Linked DNA regions of Homo sapiens. The protein of the gene in region 4 interacts with the protein of the main gene of each other region in a pairwise test. Each region holds a gene or a part of one and is shown on either strand. Other genes may lie near its edges. The genes, in order: GABPB1, MNS1, MAOB and CHAT.

The links.
Region 1: the proteins of CHAT (region 4) and GABPB1 interact in binary tests that used the Homo sapiens proteins (3 or more experiments, as listed by UniProt).
Region 2: the proteins of CHAT (region 4) and MNS1 interact in binary tests that used the Homo sapiens proteins (3 or more experiments, as listed by UniProt).
Region 3: the proteins of CHAT (region 4) and MAOB interact in binary tests that used the Homo sapiens proteins (3 or more experiments, as listed by UniProt).

What each region holds. Positions count from the first base shown.
Region 1 is NC_000015.10:50,345,177-50,352,204, reverse strand, and holds part of GABPB1 (GA-binding protein subunit beta-1 isoform beta 2), read left to right. Parts: exon of another isoform or gene 1-3,269; intron 3,270-5,809; exon of another isoform or gene 5,810-5,833; intron 5,834-7,028.
Region 2 is NC_000015.10:56,462,138-56,469,541, reverse strand, and holds the start of MNS1 (meiosis-specific nuclear structural protein 1), read left to right. Parts: upstream 1-4,404; 5' UTR 4,405-4,569; coding exon 4,570-4,572; intron 4,573-5,294; coding exon 5,295-5,516; intron 5,517-7,404. UniProt on the Homo sapiens protein: Microtubule inner protein (MIP) part of the dynein-decorated doublet microtubules (DMTs) in cilia axoneme, which is required for motile cilia beating.
Region 3 is NC_000023.11:43,795,428-43,802,455, reverse strand, and holds part of MAOB (amine oxidase [flavin-containing] B), read left to right. Parts: intron 1-192; coding exon 193-284; intron 285-5,189; coding exon 5,190-5,331; intron 5,332-6,567; coding exon 6,568-6,717; intron 6,718-7,028.
Region 4 is NC_000010.11:49,659,026-49,666,053, reverse strand, and holds part of CHAT (choline O-acetyltransferase), read right to left. Parts: intron 3,410-7,028; coding exon 3,272-3,409; intron 1,278-3,271; coding exon 1,008-1,277; 3' UTR 1-1,007. UniProt on the Homo sapiens protein: Catalyzes the reversible synthesis of acetylcholine (ACh) from acetyl CoA and choline at cholinergic synapses.

The DNA.
Region 1 (7,028 bases), on a different chromosome or scaffold from region 4:
TAAAGTGCACGTCATGAGGAATTCAGAAATTCAGAAATTACATGAAGTTTTGCATCATGAATTTATTTTTGAGGGTGCACGAGGCAGTTACCCAGTCTCTGTTTGCAAGTAGCCTGAGTTCAGATGAACTCACTGATGGCCTCCATCTCTTCTGACTTTGCAAACGTTGAAAAACAAACCCACACAAAATCTTGAAGTTGAGAGCAACTTAGTTTCCTTAGTGTCATCCCTCTGCTCCCCTCTCCTCCCCAACAACTAGTATGGTTTCCAGCTAGTAATCACAATGTTTCTATAGCTCTGATGTGCCTACATTGGGATAGCTACAATTAGTATTATAGTTTTCTGAAGATGTTTGTTCCATCATGCTTTCTAGAAGGTAAATCTAGCACTAGATGAGATCAGTATTAGGGCCTGTGTTTTTTCTCAGTGTTGACATCACAGTGCTCTATACAAAGAAGATGCTTTGGTGCAATCAGCTGTCAGTTCAGTTGGTGGGCTAGTGCACCTTTCTGTCTCCCTCCCTCCCTCCCTCCCTCCCTCCCTCTTTCCTCTCTCCTTCTCCCTCTGTCCCTCTCCCTCTCTCTCCTTCCCTCCCTGTTTTCCCCTTTGCACCTCTTCTTTCTTTGACAGGGTCTTGCTTTCTCTGTTACCCAGGCTTAGTGCAGTGGTGCGATTATACTTCACTGCAAGCTCCACCTTTCAGGCTCGAGCGATCCTGCCTCTGCCTCAGCCTCCTGAGTAGTTGGGACTACAGGTACCTGCCAACATGTCTGGCTAATTTTTTAATTTTTTGTAGAGACGAGATCTCACTGTGTTGCCCAGGCTGGTCTCAAACTTCTGGACTCAAGTGATCCTCCCACCTTGGCCTCCCAAGTGTTGGGATTATAGGCGTCAGCCAACACACCCATCTGTGAATAATTCTGAAGTTGGTAGAACAGCTTATTGACAGAGCAAGGTGTTAGCCCCACTTTACTGTGTACTAGTTATATTATATTTGGGGTATTGTGTTGGCTTTTTGGGTAGCATACTATCATAAGTGAGACCTTGTATTCATTCTCAGACTTTATCAGAATCATCTGGAGAGCTAATAAAAAGCCACACAGAGGCCCAAACTTAAGTAGGGTAGGAACGGACCTTAATTTTTCTCATTTCCAAGGTGGTAGACACCTAAGTGTCAAAATCACTTATCTGTAGAGCATAAACGAGGACCTTGATCATGAGAGAAATGGAAATGAGAAAAAGTTGAAAAAATGGGATGTTTGACCTAAAGAAGAGGAGCTTCTTTTAAGAAGTAACAGCCACTTTTAAGGATTTGGAGTTCTGTCATGCAGAAGGATCAGATTTGACTTGACCAGAAGGAACTAGGGTCAGTGGGTGGAAGTTTAAAAGAAGCAGATTTCAATTCTCTTTCAAGATAAATTTCCTCAAAATTGTGAAAATAGAATGAGTTGTTTTGGGTGGTAGGCTGTTCCTGTTCACTGACAAATTGGGGATTCTAGAGTAGAGGAATCGTACTGAAGGAGAATTTGAGCTAGGTGTCTTCAAGTTACCTATAAACTTTGAGGTTTTATTAAATATGCCGAGGTTTACAGGTGGAAGAACAAAAAGCTAATTGAGTGAAACAAACTGGTTAACTTGATAATAGTTTTTGCCTTCCTGGATAAAGAGAAATGAGTATTAAGTGAGAAGGCTATTTAATGAAGGGCTTTAAACCACACTGTAATTTGGTAGATTCAGCAGCTTTAAAAATTGGCATACCTTCTGACATGGAAATTCCCTTTAAAGAATTTTTTTTTTGATGTAGTAAAGATGTGTGTGAATATTTAATTGTGAGCATACTAGATGCAGTATTGTTGATTATAAAAGCTGTGTATTAATGCCTTTAAGCCCCACGGTAATCATATGAAGTGGGTAGTACTATTTCTGCTTTTCAGAAGAAAAAACAGGCATAGAGAAATGAGGTTGCTTGCTCAAGGTACCTGAGTTAGTTAAGTGTTAGGGCCAGGACTTGAATCCAACCAGTGTGACTCTAGAGCCAGTACTATTGATCATTATATGGTAAAATTGTAAACAACCTAAATGTTTCACAGTGATTGTTAGGGTCCATCCCTACAGTGGGGTACTGCCTTCTCAGCCATGAAAATGATGATAGAATAATATAAAGACATGAAAGGATGTCTTGGTATATGTAAGTGAGAAAAAATAAATTTAAAAACATGATTCCATTTTGGTAAAAAAACCCAAAAATATATTATGTCTGGAAGGATATGTGCCAAATTGTTAAATGGTTATTTCTGAGTGTAGTTTTACAGGTGATTGTTTTCTTTTTGCTTATCCAAATTTTCTAACTTCTACAATGAATATAAATTATCTATCATGTTGTAATTAAGATATTAAGATGTAACTTTTCAATAAAAAATTAAATGTGTTAGCATAAGCTGAGAAATTTGGGTTTTATACTCTGCATTTTAAGCAAGTTTGTAGAAATTGTACATGAGAATTTGTAAATGCATGTAGTGTTTTGTAATTTTTTGTTTGATTCCTTATTCTAGAAGTAATATCAATTGAGTAGAGAAACATATCACTCCTACCACCCTACCATAATCAATTATTTTGTTGTGTGTTGTTACTCTTATGTGTAATATTTTAAATATTCATCCCAGTGTCATCCCAGTTAGTCATACTCTAGCTGTGTGATTTTAGGCAGTTTACTTAATCTCTCCGTGGCTCAGTTTCCTTCTTTGTAAAATGTGGATTATTATAATACTTAGCTCATGATGATTGGAAAGATTAAATGTTATTTCATATAAAGTGAACAGAACAGTACCTGAAACATAACAGTTAATAGCTCAATAAATGTTAGCAATTATAGGATCACAGTCCACCATTCAAACTCTTAGGGTCTAATAGGTTATGGAATTAGGAATTTTTTTTTTATATGGGCAAGGTAGTAATGTGTAGCCTTCCAATAGAGTCCAGTGCAATATCCCCCTTCAAAAGTGTTACTGTTTCTGCAACAAAATGTATGAATGTTCGCACTAAATAGGATAAAGACTGTAAATAGCTTCATATCAGTTTGGGTAAGGTTTACCACAAGATGAGTTATTTTGGGTTTCAGAAGTTTTTTGGATTTTTGGAATTGAAGATAAGGAACCTATAAAATATTAATTTTGAGTCCTATTTTATAATATTAAAACATCTTTTCATGGTATTTTATAGTTTTATAGTGCATGGTAAATTAAAGTCAATTAAAATGAAATAATGGAAAATGTCCACCTCCATCTCCTTTGATTTAAAAAATACTCAGCATACTGATACTATGATTTAAAAAAAATTTTTTTTTTGAGATGGAGTCTCACTCTGTCGCCAAGCTGGAATGCAGTGGCACGATCTTAGCTCAGTGCAATCTGCGCCTCCTGGGTTCAAGCGATTCTTCTGCCTCAGCCTCCCGAGTAGCTGGGACTACAGGTGCGCGCCACGACGCCCAGCTAATTTTTGCATTTTTAGTAGAAACGTGGTTTCACCATGTTGGTCAGGATGGTCTTGATCTCTTGACCTTGTGATCTGCCTGCCTCGGCCTCCCAAAGTGCAGCAATTACAGGTGTGAGCCACTGTGCCCAGCCAAAAAGTTTCAAAGTTTAAAAAAAAAAAAATGGCCGGGCTCAGTGTCTCATGCCTGTAATCCCAGCACTTTGGGAGGCCGAGGCGGGCGGATCACTTGAGGTCAAGAATTCGAGACCAGCCTGGCCAACATGGTGAAACGCCGTCCCTACTAAAAATACAAAAATTAGCCAGACGTGGTGTGTGCTTGTGTCTCGGCTACTCGGGAGGCCGAGGTGGGAGTATTCCTTTAGTCTGGGAGGCGGAGGTTGTAGTGAGCGGAGATTGTGCCACTGTACTGCAGCCTGGGTGACAGAGCAAGATTCTGTCTCCAAAAAAAATTTAAAAAACTACTCCTGTTGGTCCTGACTGTGATTCTATTTTAAAGAATATCTTAAACCCACTAATGCTGTGATTATATTACATAATGTAGAATCTTTTTCTGAAAGAGGCTTGAGCATTCCTATAACCCAATTAGCTTGTTTATGTCTCATTACACTTGAGGGATAAGATACTTTTACTATGGTGGTTTACTATAGTAGTGATTCTTTTTTTTTTTTTCCAGATGGAGTTTCACTCTGTCACCCAGGCTGGAGTGCAGTGGTGTGATCTAGGCTCACTGTAACCTCTGCCTCCCGGGTTCAAGTGATTCTCCCAAGTAGCTGCAGTTACAGGTGCCCGCCACCATGCCCAGCTAATTTTTGTATTTTTAGTAGAGACGGGGTTTAGCCATGTTGGCTAGGCTGGTCTCCAACTTCTGACTTCAAGTGATCTGCCCACCTTGGCCTCCCAAAGTGCTGAGATTACAGGTATAAGCCACTGCGCCCAGCCTATAGTAGTGATTCTTTAAAGGAGGTGGGTAGATGACACTGTGATACCTGTCTTTAATGCACCCATTCTGTGCATGTAGAGACTGAGGTGGTTGTAAAATTACAGTACTGAACTTTGGAATTAGGTCAATTCTTCTCATTATGATAACGGTTTTGGATGTATAGCCCCTTCTGACTCCTGGAATCCTTTATTTCCACAGCACTTCCCATGTATCCAAACAGAGGAAAAAATAATTAGTAGTATAGTGCTTGCTTCAGCAGCACATATACTAAAATTGGAACGATGCAGAGAAGATTTTCATGGTCCCTGCACAAGGATGACACATAAATTTATGATGTGTTCCATATTTATTATTATTTTTAATAATAAAAAATAAAAAAAATTTGTATGGTGTGTAAGTGAATGATCTAAAAAATTTCCTTTGTGCCCTAAATGACTTGTGTGAACTCTGTGATCTTTGCCAATGTGATTATTCTTCCTGTGTTCCTTTACTTGTTCCATTCATAGTGACCCTCAGTTTCTTGCCCTAAGTGCTATGGTCTAAAAGCTTGTGTCTCCCCATAATTCATGTTGAAATCTTAACCTCCAAGATGATGGCATTAGGAGATGGGGCCTTTGGGAGGTGATTAGCTCAGGTGGGTAGAGCCCTCAGGAGTGGGATTAGTGCTCTTAAAAAAGAGACTCCAGACCGGGTGCAGTGGGTCATGCTTGTAATCCCAGCACTTTGGGAGGCTGAGGTGGGTGGATCAGGAGGTCAGGAGTACAAGACCAGTTTGGCCAAGATGGTGAAACCCCATCTCTACTAAAAATACAAAAATTAGCCGGGCACAGTGGCAGGTGCCTGTAATCCCAGCTACTCAGGAGGTGGAGGCAGGAGAATCGCTTGAACCTGGGGGGGGCGGAGGTTGCAGTGAGCCGAGATGGCGCCACTGCACTCCAGCCTGGGCGACAGAGTGAGACTCTGTCTCAAAAAAAAAAAAAAAGACTCCAGACAGCTTGTTAGCTCTTTCTTCCACATGAGGTTACAGCAAAAAGACAGATGTCTAGAAGCTGGCCCTTACCAGATACTGAATCTGCCAGTGCCTTATTTTGGACTTCTCAGCCTCCTGGGCTGGGTGAGGTGGTTCACTACCAGCCTTGGCACCATAGTGAGACTCCCATCTCTACAAAAAAAAAAAAAAAAAAACTTTCTGTTGTTTGTAAGCTACCCAGTTTATGGTATTTTGTTACAGCAACCCAAACAGTCTGAGACGTTTAGCTTAACTCCTGTATGCACTAGATACAGTCTGCACTTTGACATCAATCACTTATTTTATATTTTACTGGACTCCTGTTGTCAGATTTTTCCACCATCGATTTCTTCTGTTTTCCCTCACAGGTCACAGCATATTTGTGGAGGAAGGTGAGTAATTATGAAGATTTCTTGGCCACTATAAATTTACGCTGAACAATTCCAAATAGGCCCCTCCTACTTCTTGGCAATCATCTTATTAATTGCATTTTTCTGTTGTCTCATATTCCTTCTTCCTCTTTAACTCTTAATAGATGCCATTTACTTCTATATAAGTGAAAAAGGAAAACAGGGTACAAGCTTGCACATTTTTTTTTCATTGTAACCATGACAAATCACTGTTCTTTCATCTTATTTTGTAAATTGAACGGAAGAAGAATCCTGCTGCCACAGTTAACTTTACCTCTCTGGTCACTTTGATTGTTATTTGCAATGTTTTTTCTTCCCTACCTTAAAATATGTACAGACTTCTCACCGGGCGTGGTGGCTCATGCCTGTAAACCCAGCACTTTGGGAGGCCAGGGCGGGTGGATCACGAGGTCAGGAGATCGAGACGATCCTGGCTAACACAGTGAAACCCCGTCTCTACTAAAAATAAAAAAAATTAGCTGGGCGTGGTGGCGAGCGCCTGTAGTTCCAGCTACTCGGGAGGCTGAGGCAGGAGAATGGCGTGTACCCGGGAGGCGGAGCTTGCAGTGAGCCGAGATCGCACCACTGCACTCCAGACTAGGCGACAGAGCGAGACTCCATCTAAAAAAAAAACAAAAAAAAATGTACAGACATCTGTACTTTGGGAGGAAAAAAAATCAATTTTGATGAACTGCTGCTACTGTTCTTTCTAGCTATCTGCTGCATTTCTCTTCATTTCAAAAATTTTAAGAATTGAATTACAATTGCTGCCGTGAGTTTTTACTTTTTTTTCGAAGACAGGGTCTCACTGTGTTGCCCAGGCTGGAGTACAATTGCAGCTCACTGCAGCCTTGACCTCCCCAGGCTCAGGTGATCCTCCTACCTCAGTTTCCCGAGTAGCTGGGACTACACGCATGTGTCACCATGCCTGGCTAATTTTTGTATTTTCCTGGTAGAGACAAGGTCTCACTGTGTTGGCCAGGCTAGTCAACTCCTGAGTTCTTTTACTACTACTTTCCTAACTTACGCAGTTTTGGAATAGCATAATTCAGATTGTCGCTTCAGAGGACATCTTTTTTGTCAATAATATTGGCTTCATCCTGACTCTTTTCAGCTAGTATATATGTGTTACTATTTCCACTGAGGCTTTTTAATGTTCTCTCCTTGCCGTTTGTGT
Region 2 (7,404 bases), on a different chromosome or scaffold from region 4:
TTTCCCAAGATGCTGCTGCTCAGGTTTTCCACAGTTTGCCTCTTCTGGGCTGGCCCCTCTGGCCCTCCAGACACACTTCTCTAGGTACATAGCTGATATGCCACAATTTAATTAGCCATTCCCTAAACACTGCATGTTTAGATCACCCATTTTTGTGGTGTTTTGTTTTTGTTTTTTTGCTAAATTAGAAAATTTTGCAATAAATAAAATCGTGCCTTTAGTCGTTTAAAATTTTTGGTCTGGTTAAGTTTTCACTAGAAAAATTGCCATAAATATATCAAATGTCATCAAATTTGGTACCTTTTTAAAGTTAAGAAATGAAAAAAATCCATATAAACATAGTTTACACATGTATATATCTCTATATAAATATAGGTATATATGTATACTTTTCTTTTTACCAATAAGAGCTTATATAATTCAGAAGGGGATTCCTCCACTCTTCATGATGAATTTAATATGGTCATCTTTACTTCACCGCTAGCCAAATTACAGTCTCTGTGCATCATATAACAAATTCCTAATGACATCACAAGTTATTTGACATCACAAATTCTGTATTCCATTCCTATATACATAATATGTAGATGCCAGTCTTCTATTTTACTACTCATTTACAAATAGTGGCTTTTCAATAAAATTACCCAGGTAAATTTTTATTCATATCTACAATGAATAAGCATTCTTTCTGTGTAGTGTTCTCAACCCTAGAAATCAATATATTACAATTCTGTAGTTCTTTCTCAGTGTTATGCTAGAATTCATGAAGTCAGCAATCTCCTATTCCTGTAGACATAGTGAAGATGCAAGAGCAAAAGTGAAAGTGAGAGACGAGGAACGAAAGACATCCACTAAGCCTGGGTTTCAGTGAGCTCACCAACCATTTCTTCATGTCTCTTTACCCCTAACAATTATTTAGCACTTGATCACATCATCACACAGTCCATATGATTCCCAGATTATGGTGGCTAAAATATCCAGAAACAGATTTTCTTGTCTTAATGAAACAATCAAATTCAATATATGGAAGTTAGCCTATTCTGCATCAACCAGAAAGTAGTCACTTCCTAACTGCATATGACAGACAGAAAAAGTACTAAAGGAAGTTATATACAATGAAACCATTAAATGCAGATTTGCCACAAGGCAAGATGGTAATACTTGAACATTATGAAGTGCAGAAACTGCACAAGCACATTATATTTTAAACACTTCATCTATTTAACAAACTATGTACCCTCTTCAGCTAAATAAGATGAATTGAGATTCAAGAGGCAGCACCATACTAGCAAATCTCATCCTAAAGGCATCCATTAATATAAATCAACAGCAGCAATTTGGTTTGATCACTTATTTGCAAGAATCATTAAGGTTTATTAGCATAATTGTTCCCTCTGGGATTTCATGTCGAGAAAATGAAGAATGGCATTATCAATATTTAAAAGATAAGTGTGTAATGTTCAGAGTATTTCAACAGTCATCTGCAGGTGGTGTCCAGCTGCAGCAAATTAGATTAGATTTGGGCATTTTTCTGAACGAAAGAAAAATTGTTTTGTTCTAATTGCTTTATTTTATAAAGCAATACCATTTCGTAAATAATTTTTACTGTATAGCTACACTTAACAGTGCACATCTATTAACATGCTTTATTTCAGATCAGCAACTCTGTTAAGTTCAACCCTGTTATATTGTAACTACTGGGGGACATTAATCAGTATAATTCATCATCCATTATAAGGAAAAGCTCCTTCCCCTCAGTACTCTAGACATTTTAGTCTAGACTTGTAGGTAAAAAGTTGTTTTCTAGAGGGAAATGAACGAGAAGACTTCCTTGTAATGTTGGGAAGGCATAAGTCCTCCCTTAACAATGAAGTATCATTTATGATAGTAATAATTTATTACTAGAAATAATATTTAAATGTAATAATTGTTTTTTAATAATGACATGCAATGGAATGTTATTTAGTGATAAAAATAAATGAGCTATCAAGTCACATAAAGATTTGCAGGAACCTTTAAATGAGTTTTGCTAAGGGAAAGATGCCGGTCTGAAAAGGCTACATACTGTATGATTCCAAAGATACGACATTCTGGAAAAGGCAAATCTATAGAAACAATAGAAAGATTAGTGGTTCCCAGGGGTTTGGGAGGAAGGAGTGAGGGAGAAATGAATAGGTAGAACACAGAGACTTTTTAGGCAGTGAAACTATTCTGTATGATACTGTAATAATAGATATATGACAATATGTCTCAATTTTCTGACCTCAAGCAACCTTCTTGCCTCAGTCTCCCAAGTAACTGGGATTACAGGTGCAAGCCACCACTCCTGGCCAGATACATGACATTATGTATTTCTCAAAACCCACCTGGGAGCAGTGGCTCATGCCTATACTCCCAGCACTTTGGGAGGCCAAGGTGGGTGTATGACTTGAGGTCAGGAGTTCAAGACCAGCCTGGCCAAACTGGTGAAACTCCGTCTCCACTAAAAATACAAAAATTTGCTTGTAGTCTCAGCTACTTGGGAGGCTGAGGCAGGAGAATCGCTTGAACCTGGGAGGTAGAGGTTGCAGTGAGCCGAGATCATGTCACTGCACTACAGACTGGGCAACATAGCCAGACTTCATCTCAGAAAAAAAACAAAACAAATCCTCATAGACCTGTACAAAACAAAGAGTGAACCCTAATGTCAATTACGAACTTAATCATATTAATATTGGTTCGTCAAGTGTAACAAATGTACTACACTAATATGTAATGCTAAAAATAGGGGAAATTGTATGGGTGCGGTGGGGAGGAGAGGTGAGACGGGGAATTCTCTGTATTCTGTCAATTTTTCTGTAAACCTAAAACTGCTTCGAAAAAGGAGCAAAGTCTATTAAAAATGTAGTAATTGTTAGGATAATTTTTTAAAGGTTAAAATCAGCTAATTGTTACAATTGATTAAATTTGTCTTGGATTTAGGTCAATATTCTGGCCAAAAATCTTTTTCTCAGATTACCTATGAAATTATATGAATCCTTCTACCATATCCAAGGGTATACTGGAAATGAGGAATTATAACTGAAGTTCCCTTTAGAGACGAAAGTCTTCATTTCGAGAAGTAAACAGTAAAAAACATACATGTTTGCTGAAATACTTTGCAATGTCACTATTTCACTATTAGGAATTAACAAATTAAACCCCACACTCTATTGAATGTGTTATACCCTGTTCAACCCTGAACCCATGCCTGTCTCCTGTCTCTTCTATACAGTGCCCAACCCTTTGCGGAGATGGATATGCCAAGAAGAGAAATTTATAGCAGGCTGCCTGCTTTGCTCCATTCCAGATCAATTTACACAGAACACCCAGAGGGCAGGTTTACGCCTTCTCTCCATTTCTCTCAAACAGTGATGGCAATGAGTGGAGTACTAGAGACAACATAGATATGCAACCACGGGATAAATGACCAAAGGACAGAGAGACGAGCGACCTCAGTTGTATGATGGAACCAAGAGAAGTCGCTGATTTTTAGTTGTTTTGATCTGGTTGTAAGGATGGGGTGACAACTTCCAAGCTTTTACACGTCAGCACTGAAACTGCAAGTCCCATTTGTTATTAATCTTTAAGCAGACATATTGCTACAGAAGACGGACTCCAAATTAGAATAACACAAAGTTATACCACTAATCACCTTATACAAATATTTTAGTGTTGACAAGATTTCTCTGAATGTATCATTTCTAAAATCAGTATATCTAATTTCTCTGATCCATTATCATTCTTAAACTTCCCATTTAAAATGGACTTTAGTGTCTAACCTGCCTATGGAATGAACCAGATCAACATCCTGCCATCATGTAACGTGCTCTCTCTTGGTACCTGGACCACATAGCAGAGTAAGATTCATGTGGCTCATAGATTTTAGTCCCAAAATTTACCAGCAGCTTCTGCGGGGGGGGGGGGGGGGCGGGGGGGTGAAGTGAAGGCTGCTGGAAGCTCGTGCTACCCTCAGTGCCTCACAACCCAGCAAAGGGGACAGCGACCTGGACTCCCATTGCTGAGGATTAAACCAGTCATCGTCCCTAGCAGAGACCTGGCTGACTAGGCACTTAGTGTGCGGGATGCTCCATGCGTGGAAATTTCCTTCGGCTCCATGCATTAGGCAGTAGTTTGCGTATTTCTCTGTGCGCAGTCTCCACAGTCCCGAACTTGGCTCCCAAACCCACTGAAACCACAGTTCGGCCGCTGGAGGGAAATCGAGCTTCCCTAGCCCACTGCAAAGTGCTTGGGTCAGGCCACAGTCTGAACTTCCCGCTTTTCTAGTTTAGACCTATAGAAGTAGCCCTCCTGCCCTGGTCCTAAGAAGCTCAATGCCGATTGTATCTTATCGCGTCCAATGGGAGGCCACGTTCTGCGTGGGTCACTTTTGGTCGAGCGGAGGGCGCGCAGCTCCACCGTTGCCAAGACGCCGCGTAAACACCCGAGCGCGCGCAGCCAGGTGCGCTCCTTGGGGCTGCTGGCTGCTGCGTTTGCGGCGGGAGGTGGTGGCCGCGGTCCCACGAGAGGGGGTATTTTTCGTCAGCCAAGATGGTGAGCCAGTTGGGGGACTTGAAACTACTTGTTTATTGTTGATTTAATTCTAGTTTGGCGCTCATCTGCTTCTAAAAAAGGATTTTAAGTGCTTAATCTGGTCATTAATTGGGGAACTTGTATTTGCTTTCGGAGGCTTCAGGTGCTATTAGAAGGGACGCTCGCGGTGGTTTCCAGCTTTTTTGGCACTTTTCGCATAGTGTATTAAATACATCTTTAAATCTGCCCAATAGAACCTCTGAAGAAATAAGTAGATATAAAAGTGTAGGAGAAAGCGAATTGATAAATAGCGGCGAATTGACCTATTACATTTATGTTAGGAAAATCTGACCAGCTTCTGAACAGCACTTTATGGCCCTGTGGTGGTAGTCGTGGTGGTGGTGGTGGTGGGTGGAATGAGGGGAGGAGAAATTCCCTGGTGGTAGTAAAGATCTGGGTCTGTAGGGTGCGATTAATCCTAGCACAGCTATTTATTAGCTGCAGAACCTTGGGTAAAGTTACTTTTCATGTTTCATCTATAAAATAGGTAATAATAACAGTACCTATTTAATCGATATGTGAACATATTTACCACGTTTACTTTTTATTCGGTATACTCCTTTGAATTTAGGAAGGAAGCCAGGCTCTTCGTATCCTTTCTTACTAAGGTTTATATCAATACATTTTTTAAAATTAGATTTTGGAATATCAAAATATGCATCTTTTTTTTTCTTCCATCGTAGGGTTCCAAAAGGAGAAATTTGAGCTGTAGTGAAAGGCATCAGAAATTAGTAGATGAAAACTACTGCAAAAAATTACATGTCCAAGCTCTAAAAAACGTCAACAGTCAAATCAGGAATCAAATGGTGCAGAATGAAAATGATAACCGTGTTCAGCGCAAGCAATTTCTCAGATTATTACAAAATGAACAATTTGAGTTGGATATGGAAGAGGCCATTCAAAAGGTAAGTTTTACTATTCATTGTTACTTTTTTTTTCATTTTGCACCTTGGAAACGATGAAAGTCAGCTGTTAATGCTGGAAATGAGTAGATAAACAACAGCAGCAGGTAAGTGATGCCTGATTGTGCCTCAGCTCGGTGTAATCGTAAAGACCTGGGTTTCTGGAGCCGGCCTGTCTTTGAATCCTACTACTGCTATACCTTAGCTACGGACCCTTGAGTAAGTTGCTTTTACTTTTTTTTTTTTTTGGATGGAGTCTTGCTCTGTCGCCCAGGTTGCAGTGCAGTGGCACGATCTTGGCTCACTGCAACCTCTGCCTCCGGGGTTCAAGCGATTCTTCTGCCTCAGCCTCCTGAATAGCTGGGACTATAGGCGCGCAACACCACGCCTGGCTAATTTTTTAATTTTTAGTAGAGACGGGGTTTCACCATATTGACCAGGCTGATCTCGAACTCCTAACCTCGTGATCCGCCCGCCTCGGCCTCCCAAAGTGCTGGGATTATAGGGGTGAGCCACCGCGCCCAGCCTGCTTTTATTTTTTATGCTTTTTCTATAAAATGGGGAATAAGAATAGTACCTCCTACTTAGGATTGTTTTAATAATGAGTTAATACATGCAAGACTCTTGGAATAGTGCCTGGTACAGAATAAGCACTCAGATTTTTTTTTAACATAAATATGAACTCTGTAATTACTACCAGTTTTGTTCATGTAAGTACAATTGTGTTGCCTTTCATAAATTTCTAAAAACAAAAATTTAGGGGTGCCTTTAAAAAATTTACTGAAATTAATGTATACATTATTAAGTGGTAGAAAATGAACCCTTAGGTATATCTCAACATTTTAAGGGATTAAGGTGGTAGAAAAGGGAAACTAATAAGAATTGAGACATGATAGAAGTGAATTCTCATAAATATATAAAAGGTATTCTGATATGTCAGTAGTTTTTGAGTAGCTGCTGTATGTTAAACATTTTGGAGGATTTTGTGGAGAATAACAAAAGCAAATTTAAAAAATGATATCCACCCTTCTGTGTTCCAAATTCAAAAGCTTAGATATGATTTTTTTTTTTAACTCTGAGAAAGCACATCTTAGGGGTTGGATATTTTTCCTATTCTTATTATTTTCTCTTTAATTTGAAAGAATATCCCAGGTATCACACCAACTCTTTCCTACATAGTTAAGTGTACATCTAACAAAATATGGATGTTTTCTTACATGGAGTACCATAATACTATTATCTCACCCATTCCATAAACACATTTCTGTGATTGTGTCAAAAATCTGCTTTTACAGTTGGTTTGTTTTAACCAAGATCCAAGGAACATTCATACGGTGTATTTGGTGGTTATGTCTGTTTAAGTCCCTCTTAATTGAAAACAGCCCCTCCTTCACCGTGTTTTTCTTTTTTGACTTCATGTTTTTAGCTTGCTAAACTAAGCCAGTTGTTTTATCCAGTAGCCCACATTCTGAATATACGTGTTTGCTTCCTCATGTTCCTTTAATTTATTTCCCTATCTGTTATATTTCCTCTAAATAGAACCTAGCCATAAAGACACAATTAGATTGCGGTCCACCTTTTTTGGCAAGAATACTCCATAGGTGATGCTGTCTTTGTCATTGTGTCACAACAGGGAACACATGAGGTCTGGTTGTTCCACTTTTAGTGATGCCAGTATTGATCAGTGGGTTTAGGAAGACAGTCTGGTTTCTCCACTGTAAAGGTTCCCATCAAACTTTCATCTGTGGTTTCACAAAAGAATTTTTTCTTTCATTAGTGGTTACAAAAACTGATTTTCTGATTCTTTTATTCCTTTCACATTTAATTAGCTGAAATTCCTCTGTAAAGAACTTCACCTTGGGCCAGCACAATTGCTCACCCATATAATTCT
Region 3 (7,028 bases), on a different chromosome or scaffold from region 4:
CTACATAGACAGCATTGATTATGCAGTAAAAGCAATATTGGATGAATTTGGAAAACTTAACATTTTTCCTCTTTAAGGTAGAGTTTTTAATACTATTTGAATAGTTATTTAAAGTGGAAAATTACAAAAATGAATAAAATAAAAGAGAAAATTACATTTGTCTTTCTCCTTCGAATCCTCATCTGAATGTAGATTCCGAGTGATGCCCCATGGAAGGCTCCCCTTGCAGAAGAGTGGGACAACATGACAATGAAGGAGCTACTGGACAAGCTCTGCTGGACTGAGTAAGTCTTGCCATTAGGCACAGGCATTTACTGTGACCACCTTTTAGGTTTATTTAGCAATACCGTTCAACAAGTATGGGACAAGTAGCTGCTTTGTGTCTAAAACCACACCACCAGCCAGTGGCATGCTGAAAACCATTGGAATTGGCTCCTACCCTGAAGATATCTGTACATACAACTTACTTCTTTGGAGTAGTTTTGTATCACAAAGGTGGTATTACCCTGTGAAGTCCTCAGAACAGACCAGAAGGTACCACTTTCTTTATCTGAAACAGCTTAAAGACCATCAGCTTAAAGCTCTCATTTATTAAGTTGTTGATATAGGACAATTTTTGTATTCTTCACTGGTGGTCAAATGTGGAGATGGTTAGCATGTGCATTTGCCACACCTTGTGTGAAGTAGTGCAATTCTTCAAGGACTTAAAGAGGAACCTCTAAAGCCTTTGTGTAGATAGGTCACAACTACAGGGGAAACATGTGTGACTGGACTGGCTGTTCCCCTTTAGTGAAAAAACAAGTACCTATGAGTTAAGCATTAAATTCTTGTTGGCAGAACTGGGAACTGTAGAGAAATTGTGAAGGCTTGTATAGACAGACCACATGGAGAGGCCACACTGCTCTTGGACAGCAGGGAAAATGGAAAGGATTATGAGGGTTCCCATTCAAGCACGTGGTAAATTTGTGGTAAACAAAATAAGAGAAATGGAAGCCAAATTCAAGGAGACTGCCCTGTCTTGCTAAAGAGCATTAGTTGAGAATATGTTTGGCTCGGGGGTTAATGTCTTCATTTTTAGGCATTCATTCACTGCCAACTAAAAGTAAAAACAAGCTTTTAGAATATCTGAATCTTAAAAATGGAAATAATCAAAAGACATAAAATTCATATATTTTTCATATAAAAATTCAGCTTCTAATAATTTAGCTTTAAGAAAGTGAGGCAAAAGAAGAGAGAGGCACCAGCATGGCACATGTATACATATGTAACTAACCTGCACAATGTGCACATGTACCCTAAAACTTAAAGTATAATAATAAAAAAAAAAAAGAAGAGAGAGGCATACAGGGAGAGAAGGAGAGAGGGAGAGGGAGAAACAGTGAAAGAGGCAGATTCAAAGCATTATTTTTAAAAGGGAGGATCTGAAAGCCCAATAGTAGAAGATCGGCAGAATCAAGTATGGAACATCTAAAAAATTGAGTACTTGAGGGTTTTAAAAAATCGTGTTGTAGAGGAATATTTAATGACTGGAAAAAATAGTAATATTAAACACATAGAAAAGCAGGCTATTGTGGTATGGTATATGATCTCATTTCTAAAAACAACTATTTATATATGCACTGCAAAAGCAATGGACATCCATTGAAGTATTTTTAACGTTTAATATTACCATGCAAACATTTATTTTTAAAATGTTTAAAAACTTTACATCATTAAAAATTATTCTTTAAACATCATATTTCATGGTACCAGAATATTCCATGGGAAATGAATACGTAATGTATTTGTCCATTATCATCCTGTTGAACACATTGGTTACTTTCTGTTTTTTGTTATTATCATTATACAATACTCTATAATAAACATCTTTATGCCTCTCCTGTGTTTTCAACCTTTGAAAGCAACCAGTTCTGGAATAGTAAAATCCTTTTATGTCATGAAATCAATGCGTGTTATTAATTATATTCTTTTAAACATTTACCTAATGCTATCTAACACCTCTATGAGAATGTAGTTTGCAATATAATTTATTTTAATAGTAATAAAATTGTAGTATTTAGTTTTAAATTATATACTTTAGATTTTCAAAATATAATAAGTATGTAATTATCTGCATTTGTTTTATAACTCCTGTTATGAAAAGCTTTTAATAAATTCAGTTAGGTCTTCTCTCCTCAGAGAACTTTTAAGTTTCTTGGTGATAAAATCAATCATATGTTTTTGGGATCACAGGGACCCGACATTTTCTATCGTAGCCCTTGGCCTAGTCCTCCACTTAGTGAATATTCTAAGTTGTCATTTGACAAAATAAAGCATTCTGAGATACTAGGAGTATAAGAACACAAGACAATTTTCCAACTCTTCCCAAGCAAGATACACACAGTATTATTTCCTGGATTTAAATGAAGTAATCCCCAGAATATCCAACCTATTGTTGTTCAAACTAAAGCACAATCATACATTCCAAGACTAATGTTGATTATTCTTTCAGTTATTATCATTTACAAAGTGCACTTCACAAACATGAATTGTATTTTCAATGTGATCACAGCTATGTAAAAACATTTTTTAAAAGACCTATACTTAGAAAAAAATGCATCAAAATGAGACTAGTAATTATCTTCTGGAGGGGCAGAAATATGGAAGACACTCGTTCTCTCATCCTTTTATCTTATAAATTTTCCAAATTTTATATAATGTGTATGTATTTTTCATGTAGAAAAATATTATAACATTTATCTTTTAAAAAGTCAACAGGGCAAAAAATACGGAAATATTGCACTAACTTCCTTGACCTTCCATCCTTCAAATATTGTTCTTATTTCTTTTCTTACTGAAGCTCCTAGAGTAAATTCAAATAAAGGATTAGGAATGGACTGGCCCTTCAGAATTACTTTTAGATCTCCCTTTATTTCAAACCAGAATTATTTCTTTCCCACCAAATTGCCAACAATAACAACTAGAATTCCAGCAATATTTTTGTTAAATATTGGCTCTCCAGCTGGGCCAATGTTAGGTTTCAGTTATTTATTACTCCCTTTACTGTATGCCCCTCAATCCACCTAAAAAATAAGGAAGAAAAGAAATAGGATTTTAGGAAGCAACAAATAAAATACTACTTTTATTTTAAATTGACGTCTGGATATGTGTTTTAGTTAGATATTACAAATTGCCTCTGCAAGGAAGGCATGAGCTAGCAATTTCCATCCCTTCAATTATCCTGAGAAATCTTACAAAACTAACTGTAAGTCGCTTTAATGTATATATGACACCATTTCACAGGCTGTAATGATGGGGACTGTCATAGACGGGCTGTCAGGTTGTTACAGCTGCAAATAATGTCAATAATTGGTATGTGTGTTAGGCATGATTCTACAAACTTCTAGGGTCAAGATACAGTAAAGTAGAGAGATGCCCCTTGGTGAGTAGCTGCACTTCCAAGGCTGTCAGCTGACTAATTAGAAAACATTTTGAGGTATCAAAAGCACGAGTTTTGCGTCAAGTACGATCTGACTTGAAGTTGTGTCGTTATATATTCCTAAACTGTCCGAGACTCCGTTTTCTAGCATGTGAACTGTGGAAAAATAATAGATATTTGATACGGTTGTTGCAACAATTTAACAAGATAATGATTTTAAAGACAATGGAGTGTGGAAAGAGTTCAATAAATGGAAGACAATATCATTTATCCCAACCATTGTCAGCATTACCAGGTGGAAAATGCTGCCTCAGATATAACAAGATTAACAATATGCAAACTTCATGTCAAAGTCAAAAGGGGAATTGGACCTTATTAAAGAAATCCCAGAGTGCACACTACTACTGATGAATTTTATGCTGTGCTAGATATAATGGAGTCCTCGAAATTGCATGAGATAGTTTGCTTTCTGGTGTGCTTCCTGATAGGTGATAACCTCTCACCATTTACCTGCCAATGTCAAGCAAAAGCTTACCCATTTATGCTCTATTAATTGTTTGTCCCCTCATCCATTATTTGAGCTTGTCTTCTGTTAGGCAGTAAAATAACTGAATAGATAACTGTGACTAATTTTGTGTTTGGTACAGCACCTAGCATATCCTTTGCATGTTATGGATGTTTAAAAAATTTTGTTTAACTGATATTTCTCATCAATCATTCATTCGTTCAATCATGCAACAAGTAATTATTGAGTGCTTACAATGTTCCAAGCACTATTTTGTTAAAGGGGACACTATGGTGAGTGAGAAACAGAAGATCCTTGTTCTCATAGGTTGATATTCTAGTGGGGGGAGACAGCAATTAAAAAGAATTAACCAATAATCAAGACAATTTCAGACAGTGAAAAGAGTTATAAAGATACTATACAGTAGCAAAATGATAGAGAATGTCAGGATGCTGGGAATATGGAAGCCAGTGGTCGTTTTCATAGACAAATGTGAATATGTCTTTCTAAGGAAACATTAGAGTAAAAAGAAGAGGGTACAAGATGAGACAGAAAAGGTAGGCATGGGCTGGATCACATAGGGCTCTGGAAGCCATGGTGTAAGATCTGAATCTTATTCTGGTTTTAATAGGATACCACTGGAGACTTTTTAAGCAAGAAAATGACATGATTTGATTTATACTTCAGAGAGAGCATCATGGTAGGGAGGGAGGGAAAAGCCTCTGGCTTTGAGTGTGGTGAACAGATACCAGGTGAGGATGAATGGAGGCAGAGAGGCCAGTCTGAAGGAAGTAATTGCAGTACTCCTGGAAAGAGATGGATTCTAAATTTGTGGTGAAGGTGGAGTGATGTGGTGAGAGATAATGGGACTTCCCAATGAATTGGATGGGGGAAGATTGATGGAAAGAGAGAAATAATGTTTGATTTCTAGAGTGTTGGTTTTTACCACTGAGTAAATGATGGTGCTTTTTACTGAGATGGGGATCACTGGAAGAGCAGCAGGAATGTAAGGAGAAATCATGAAAGCACAGAATCTGGAATAGAAGCTGATTCTGAGTAAGGTGTTTTGTTTACAGGGAAAATAATCTGATATTTCAAAAACCTCCGATGTCACGTTTTGTAATATTAGATTCTAGTGACAATTTTTTGACCTTACCACATTGTTTTAAACTTAACCAAGAAAATGTGTTACTTAAATAATTTTTAGAGAATTAAGAAGCTGCTCTCCTGCGTTTGCCAAGTTTGCTCTTGTTTCTTCCTGTGCAGATCTGCAAAGCAGCTTGCCACTCTCTTTGTGAACCTGTGTGTCACTGCAGAGACCCATGAGGTCTCTGCTCTCTGGTTCCTGTGGTATGTGAAGCAGTGTGGAGGCACAACAAGAATCATCTCGACAACAAATGGAGGACAGGTACCCATCCATTCTTCCACAGTCCCAATGGAAAAACACTGCTACTGAAATGAAAGATCATCATCCTTCAATCATGAACTGCTGAAGTGGGAAGCAGGCTTGTGGCTTTTAGAGCATTACCATGGCAGCTCAAAGTGTTTCTTGTAAGGCAGTCTGTTGTCAGGTACCCACTGTGAGAACCCAGTGTCCAATGTAATTTTAAAGCTAGGCTTGTCTCTCTTTATGCACTGTGGCCATTTTCCATACGCTCAATTATTATTTGGTAAGTTTGTAGGAGACCATCTGAATTAAGCTTAGCTTGAGCACTTCTTGGAAAGCTTATAAAGGAAATTCAGTAATGCATTTTCAATTTAAAACACACACTATTCATGGAATTCATTTATCTATTCATTCATTCAATGCCCATTTCTTGAGCCCCGGCACTGTATAAGGCACTGTGCTAGACACAGTAGGAACATATTGGAGTTCTTAAATAATCTGCTTGGTTGTCATGTTCCATTCTTCTCTCTCCCCCTCCTCCTCTTCTTTCTTTCTCTTCTCCTCCTCCCCCTCCTCTTTCTCCTCCTCCTTTTCTCTTTCTCCCTCTCCTTCTCCTTCTCTGACCTTAACTGAAAATTGAGGAGGAGGCAGCCAGGTCAACTGTGTGCATAGCCAGGTAGAACATTTGGAAGTTTTAGCAAGGCTGAGGGCAGGTGGGTACAGTGAGGTGAAATGAGTTCGGTGGCTACAGAAGCAGCAGGCATCTGACCCAGGATAAGATGGGCAGCCTGCAACAGGGAGTAGGCTGGCCTGGGGGAAGGGGACATGGTGGGAGGCAGGGAAGTTCTGCGCTTGAGCCACAAAGCAAGGGGAAGCAGGCTTAGGTCTGCTCAGGCAAGCTAGGGAAGAGCTTTAGGTACAGCTTCACCAGTTCCAGCTCTAAGCAAAAGACTGCAGATAGGACAGAGAGCAGGGATGGTGACCAGAAAGGTGGGATACAGGGGTCATTCTGAAGATGTCCAGCTAAGGTTGGAGTCTGGGAATCTACAAGAGCATAGCTTGTAAAGTAACTTAGAAATCCTGTAACTTTGTCCAAAGACAGCAATTCCTACTTAGAAAACCATGGTGAAAGCCACTATTCACTGCAGCAAAATGAAATGTTAGACATCTCAGAGTAGACATATGTGAGGACAACTAAGAATTTAGCAATTTATGCCCATTCCTGCGTTTCTCTTTCACCTCCTTTTCTCTTTCCAGGAGAGGAAATTTGTGGGCGGATCTGGTCAAGTGAGTGAGCGGATAATGGACCTCCTTGGAGACCGAGTGAAGCTGGAGAGGCCTGTGATCTACATTGACCAGACAAGAGAAAATGTCCTTGTGGAGACCCTAAACCATGAGATGTATGAGGTAACTGTGATATTGTGAAATATATATTTGATCTTCATCCCAGTTTCCTGGCATACAACTTTAAAAATTCTTAGAATCTCCAGAGTGATGTCCTTTGATGCCAATGATTGATGGCTGGCAGCCCCTAGGTAGCTTCAGGATGGGGCTGGTCACAGGAAAGACCATGGAAAGACTAGAGGGTTGGGACTTTCAGCCCCACCCCCAGCCTCCAGGGAGGGGATGGGGCAAGGGGCTGAAGGTTGAATTGATCACCAGAGGCCAATGATTTAATCAATTGTGCCTACATAAGGAAGCCTCCATAAAAACCCAAA
Region 4 (7,028 bases):
TCACTAAGAATTTCTGAAATTAATGTCAGGGTGGTTTTCTTAAAAATCTCTGTCTTAAAACAAAACAGATAATGGAAAAACCCAAAGTAACCATCTCTCTTCACCTACTGGAGCATGTAGGAGGGGAGGAGAGGGGAAAAGATGCAGAAAAAATGCAAATGGCAGGACCCCGGGAAGGGGCCAGGTCCTCTGCAAACCCACCGGCACCAGGCACCATCTGCTTGGGGCTGTGCAGTTTACTCATCTTGGACTGGCCCTGATGCCGCCTGCTAAGCAGAGAGTGGCAGCAACTCCAGGGCAGTCACAGATAAATTTTTTTTTCCTTTCAGAATAGCTGGACACAATTTTCTGAGCTCAACAGAAGGCTGCCCCTGGGCACGAAAGCAGAAATGTGTTTGTGGGCCCAAGTCACTATATTTTAAATGGACTTGGGCTCTGTGGTGTGTGTGGGAGGAGTGGGTGCTTGTAGGACTGTACGGCTCAGTGGAGACACTGGGAATGCCACGATAAGAATGCTCTGAATCTCAAAACACAGCCTCCTCTCCCCCAAAAAAGAAAAGAGGTAATGACCTGGAGTTAGCCTCTTCCTTCCTAACTCATTAGGTACGTTGCATGTAATAGAGTGACTCATCCTTTCCTTGGGCAGAAGCATCACCTGGACATACTAGGTCCTGCTAGGGAAGGAGACATGAACACTAAGCTTCCAAGGACCACAGAAGGAGTCCTTAGTGTGGTTCCCCAGTGCATCCAGGCTGCCTCTGAGCCAGGCAGGTCCCATTTCCCAGTGTGCAGGCCCAAAGCCACCTTGAAAATGATGATTCCCATGCATGAAGAGGGGACCCTTTCCTCCTAACACTCCGGCTCTGTGTGATGTCTCTGTATGGTCTGTGAGTTGGACCCTGAGGACAGGGAGCTGTGGAAAGCTGGGGTAAGGGACGGGAGTGGGGATCTGCAGGGTCTGGCTGTTCTAGAGGCTGGGTTTGGGAGGTGAAACCTAGTGGCAGGAGTCAAGGTTGGTGTCCCTGGCTGGGCCTCGTGGCTTTTTCCTTTGTTGCCAATGGCTTGCTCTCAGTAGGCGGCAGCAGACTGCAGAGGTCTCTCATGTCAATGAGGCTTTCTTCCACAGCTTTTGCAAACTTGCTAGAAGAAGTCTCTTTGCAGCTGTGAAAGCTAGAGATGCAGAAAAGGATGGTCTCTGGCTGGGGGTTGTAGCAGGCACCATACCCATTTGGGACCACAGGACCATAGCAGCAGAACATCTCCGTGGTTGTGGGCACCTGGAGGAGAGGACAGGTCAGGAGCTGCTTGTTCTGGAATGCAGCCCGCCAGCCTCGACTGGGCTTGGCTTCTCTGTTTTCCACCTGGGGGTTTGACTGAATTAACCAAATCAAGTGATTGCTTTAGCATGGATGGACACAGCCAGAGTCATAAAAACAGACCCATCTAACTGCATGATATCAGAGGATGAGGGGCCCCAAGCCCACTCCCTGGTGTGCAATCTGCTCTACTTGTGGAGTTGGAAGCTCCCGGAGTGACCTGGTGCTAGGTCTTGGGCTGAGTCTCCACTTCACCTGGGGGCCATTTGAGGCACGGAGGCAATCAGGTAATTTACTAAATGGTCCCCTGGTGGCACCCCATAGTTAGATGCTTTCCGGAGGGAGGAATTTATGAACTGGAGGAAATCTGGCCCATCCTCTGTGTCGATTTCCCCCAGATCCTTAATTACTGTCAGTATTGCCTGGCTTCTCTGATTTCTCCCTGCAGCCTGGCCATGCACAATTACCCAGAGTTGGGTGTTTCAAAGATTGCCATCAGTTTTACTTATGCACCTAGTATGTTTTGAATCAGAGTGCTGAGATTTTGTAATCCAGATCACAAACCAAGAAAGTATGTTTCTGAAAGCATTCAAGCCATAAATGCTGCTTTCCAGTTGGAAAACAACAAAACTCCCACACCCCAGATTAATTTTATTAGCTGGTCCTTGGGAAAAAAAATAGAAAGGATTCTTGGGCAGGTGCAGGGCCTGGTTTGTTTTAAACCTACAGGTTTCTGGTGCTGTGTGCTGAGGCCTTTGGAAGTGACACTGGCTGTTTTAATGGGGCAGAACAAACCATTAGTCTTGCTAATAGAGTCACCACATTGTCAGATAAATTTGCCGTGCAATAGCCGAAGGCCATAAAGCCATTCCAAAGCACTTTTTGCCCATGGATGATTTCCTGAGAAATTTATGGTGCTGTGTTCTGTCCTCGTTTATTCACGTCTGCATGCTCACTGCCATAATGACAACATCCCATTACTGAGTGGGCTTCTGTCCTCAAACACAGCTTATCAACTCCAGTACTGCCCATCCAGCCTTTCGCAGATGAGGTGGCATTTTAGTAAATTGATGGCTGTGGGGCATTTCCCCTCCTAAACCACGACCTCTCTCTAATGGATTGCATTCTGTCTTTGTGGCAGTGGCTCTCATACAGGACACGCTGAGGCACTGGTTAGATGTTGGGCTGGCCACGAATGTTCTGCTGTTGGTTGCGTGGCCCTTTATAATAATATCTGTGACCTATTTAGAGGGCCCTGTCCATGCCAGGCCCTGGGCTGGGCTTTCTCCCTACATAATTGTATCTGGCCAAGCCAAGACTTCACTGCAGACCTGCTGGGCATCAGAGCCCGTGGAAACCGCGGCAATAGATTGAAAGGTAGTAAGGTGTAATGGTTAGGGCACCAGAATGGGTATGTTCCTGTACTGTCTCCACCTCGGCTAAGTAGGGTCTGCTGATTACTCCCATTTAGGAGATGGGAAACCTTCTTCTTCCTTTTTTCTTTTTTTGAGACAGGGTCTCACTCTGTCACCTGGGCTGGAATGCAGTGGTGCAATCAGGGCTCACTGCAATCTCCACCTCCCCAGCTCAAGCAATCCTCTTATTTCAGCCTCTTTAGTAGCTGGGACTTCAGGCACGCACCACCATGCCCAGCTAATTTTTAAAAATAGGGAGATGAGGTCTCCCCATGTTGCCCAGGCTGGTCTCAAACTCCTGGGCTGGAGCAATCCTCCTGCCTCAGCCTCCCAAGGTGTTGGGATTATAGTTGTAAGCCACCAAGCCTGGTCAGTAAACCATCTTCTAATGAACATTCAGATCATTTTGCTGAAGATCACATAGTTCAGAAAAAGCAGAGGCAGGATTTGCCTGATTCCAGCTAGTGGGCTTGTTGTCACTGCTCTTTAGAAAGCTTACTGACTACACTACTCTTGGGCGATAGCTGCACGGGGCCGTACCTGGCTAGTGGAGAGGACAAACCGGTTGCTCATCAGGTAGGTTTCATCCATGAACATCTCGGGCAGCTCCTTGCACATGGCCCGGGCCAGCTCCCGCAGTGCCAGCAGGTGGTTGTCAATGGCCATCCCTGTTATGGCCTGTGTAGTTGGGGACAAAGAACAGGAGATGAGAAGTGGGCCTCCTGCACCTCCTTGTTCCCTGCTCTGTAGTCTACAGGACTGCTGGTGACTCCAGCAGCCACGGCTCATGCTTACCCAGTGCCTGCTGCCAACAATGTGTATGAGTGGCTGCTCAGGACTGACCGCTCTACCATGCGGCCTCTGCTCCCGGGCCCTTGCGCATTTCCACATGCACTGAATGAGTCCAGAGCAGGTTGGGTTCTAGCTTGAGACATCTGAGCTAAAGGTTAGTGAGTCTGAGCATCCCCTACACAACTATATCCGCCTGGTTCTCTAAGTGGAAAGAATGGGGCTGGCCTGGTCTTCTCAACTACCAACTGCTTGGGCAGGGAGAGAGTTTGGGAAGAAGGCTGTGTGCAGAGCTTGGAGACTACCGGATCCTGTGCAAGCATTGTGAAGGGCGTCCCAGGCTGTCCTGAACAGACTCCCACCACAACCAGCGCTGTCTCCTCCAGTAGGAGCCCAGGGAACAAGAGATAGAGGATAGAGGGTGTGAGATCTGTTACTGAATCTTGGCTGCTATTTCATGGCTCAGGATCAATTCATTTAAACTGGATCCATAATCTAAGAAATCGTTTTGAGACAGGAACTAGACCCCTTAGCAGGCTCAACTGACATTTTCAAGGGGAAAGAGCCTGTTGAATAATAAAAGTTCTTTTTCTTTTTATCACAAGATATTTAAACTTTTATCAAAGGATAGAAATATAGAGAAAGCTCCAGGATGTCAATGTAGGAGGGGTTCACGGAGGGTGAGGTGTCTGGAAGTGGGGCCGGGTACTCATTCTACAGCTCCCCCACTTGAGGCTGGGTATGTAGTATGCACACTGGTTTTTTGGACTGCATGTTTATTTGGAGCAATTCTAGGGGCTGATGGAGACTCAGGGGGCCACCCTGACCCATAGTAATCACTTTTGGGTCAACATCAGGGTAACTGTGAGTAACTCTTGGGGTTTCACAGTTCTGTAGGATGGCCAGTTAGCTGTCAAAGCCCTGCACAGGAGGAAACTTCCCATTCACAATGAACTTGGTATAGGTTTACAAGGCACGTTTAGGGATTTGACAGCTGTTCTCTTTCAGTTGCGAATGAATGCATAAAGATGACTCAGGCTCTGGTCTCTCTGAACGCACCTAATTAGAGGCTGAAAAGACAAACATTACACAACCACAGCTCACTTTAGACGTGCCCTACCTGTTAGGACCGAAGGAAAGAACGGTGAGCCCATCTATGAAGGAGACTACTCTTTTAATTTCTCTGGTTTCCTCTATTTAATTCCTGATTTGTGTTGGTCCATAGAAGCAGCTTCCCTGTGAACAGTCAACTCACCCCTCTTTTCACCACCTTGGAATAACTGTAGCAAGAGAGACTGAGTTCACAGGTTGTTTGGCTCAGAGCCATGAGTAATAACGAGTAAAATGACTTATAATTCAGTCTTTCATTCATTCATTTAGGGAATCTTAATTGAGTGCCTACTATATGCCTGGTGCCGCGGGTCCTGTAGCCACAACAGAGAACAAGACAGTTGTAGACTCAGTCCTTGTGGAGCTTATGGTGTAGTGGGGGACAGATTTCATCAACCATGCAAAAAAACATGATCATAAACTCAAGTGTGAGGAAGGGAAAACATAGAAGTGGGAGAGTAAGTGATGGGGGCTCTGGACCACCTTGCCATTGGAACTTTATTTCTCCACGACCACTGGCAAATATGCTTACCAGTTATTAGGTTTCCTTGCTTCTTTCCCCCTTTCCTTACCCTCCATGTCCAACCACACACCAGATTCACATCCTAAGCATCTTTGTATCTCTCCTTTCCCCAAACCCATCTCTTTGATTTGGTTGTTCTCATCAACTTAAAATTATTAACACAACCCTATGGCAATGCTTTGGAGGGTGTTTTCCTAGACATTTTAATAAATTTAAAGTTGTTATTGTCATATATTTATATCGTTTAGAAATCCAAATAAACCAAAAGCCTAGGTCATTTTGCCAGCACGGATTCCTACCCCACAAAGGTAATTCCTTACAGTCTTTTAGCTATTTCTTTTGGGTATATACTTTCTTTCCTCCAAACATATGCTTAGGTTACCACTACTGAATTTCTCAGTTTTACCTATAATCTTCTTGTTATAGACAGTGAAATTTCAGCTCTTTTTTTTTTTTTCTGAGATGGAGTCTCACTCTGTCGTCTAGGCTGGAGTGCAGTGGCGCGATCTCAGCTCACTGCAACCTCTGCCTCCTGGGTTCATGCCATTCTCCTGCCTCAGCTTTCTGAGTAGCTGGGACTACGGGCACCCCGCCACCACACCTGGCTAATTGTTTTGTATTTTTAATAGAGATGGGGTTTCACCGTGTCAGCCAGGATGGTCTCGATCTCCTGACCTTGTGATCCACCTGCCTCAGCCTCCCAAAGTGCTGGGATTACAGGCGTGAGCCACTGCACCCGGCCAATTTCAGCTCTTTTATGACCCTGCTCCCCCAGCACACTTCTACTCTCCCATCTTCCCAATAAGATTATGTTTTAACTCTTTGTAGTTTGATCAAGATACAGCATAATCATGTATACAGAACGATATACATAAGTATAATTAAGCAAGTATTCACAGCTGGGTCATGTAGTGTACTATGATTAGATTTCCTTTCTTATTGAATTTTTTGTTTTCCCTAGAATTGACAATGTATAAATTACTTTTTTACTTCCTTAGCTTTCCATGTATCTATTTTATTTATTTATTTATTTACTTTTGAGATGGAGTTTTGCTCTTTCACCCAGGCTGGAGTGAAGTGGCGTGATCTCGGCTGACTGCAACTTCCACCCCCTGGGTTCATGTGATTCTCCTGCCTCAGCCTCCTTAGTAGCTGGGATTACAGGTATGTGCCACCACACCTGGCTATTTTTTGTATTTTTAGTAGAGATGGGGTTTTGCCATGTTGGCCAGGCTGGTCTTGAATTCCTGACCTCAGGTGATCCACCCACCTCGGCCTCCCAAGGTGCTAGGATTACAGGCATGAGCCACTGTGCCAGGCCCCATGTATCTGTTTCTAACTGATTCCTAAACATGCAGCAAGAATTTCATTTGTCCTCTCACTTCTTGCTTCTTTATGGACTGATTGCTCTCTAGGTGTACTCAACAACTGTTGATTTGTGATCTCCTTTTACTGTCATCCTGCGGGCACCCCTCTATCTTTTTCTTGTGTTAAATCTTCTGTTTTTTTTCAGCCTATGATTTCCTCTTTTATGTTTTATTTTCTCACTTTAGAAGTCTACATTCTCCAGTAGCTTTATGAGAAATGGTGCTTAATAAGTAAAATGTTTGAGACTTTCTCTGTCTAAAAATATCTTTGATGCATCTTCAAACTTGATGACAGTTTAGCTGGGTATGAAATGTGTGTTGAAGGTCACTTTCTCTCAGAATTTGAAGACACTACTCTTTTTATCTTCCACCTTCCAATGATGCTGTTCAGAAATTAATTACATCTTTTTTATGGATCTTTGTATTTGATTTTTTTATCCTCTGATAGATTTTAGAATCTTCTCTTCATGTTTAGTGTTGTGAAATTTCCTTTGCTATGAGTATTTTC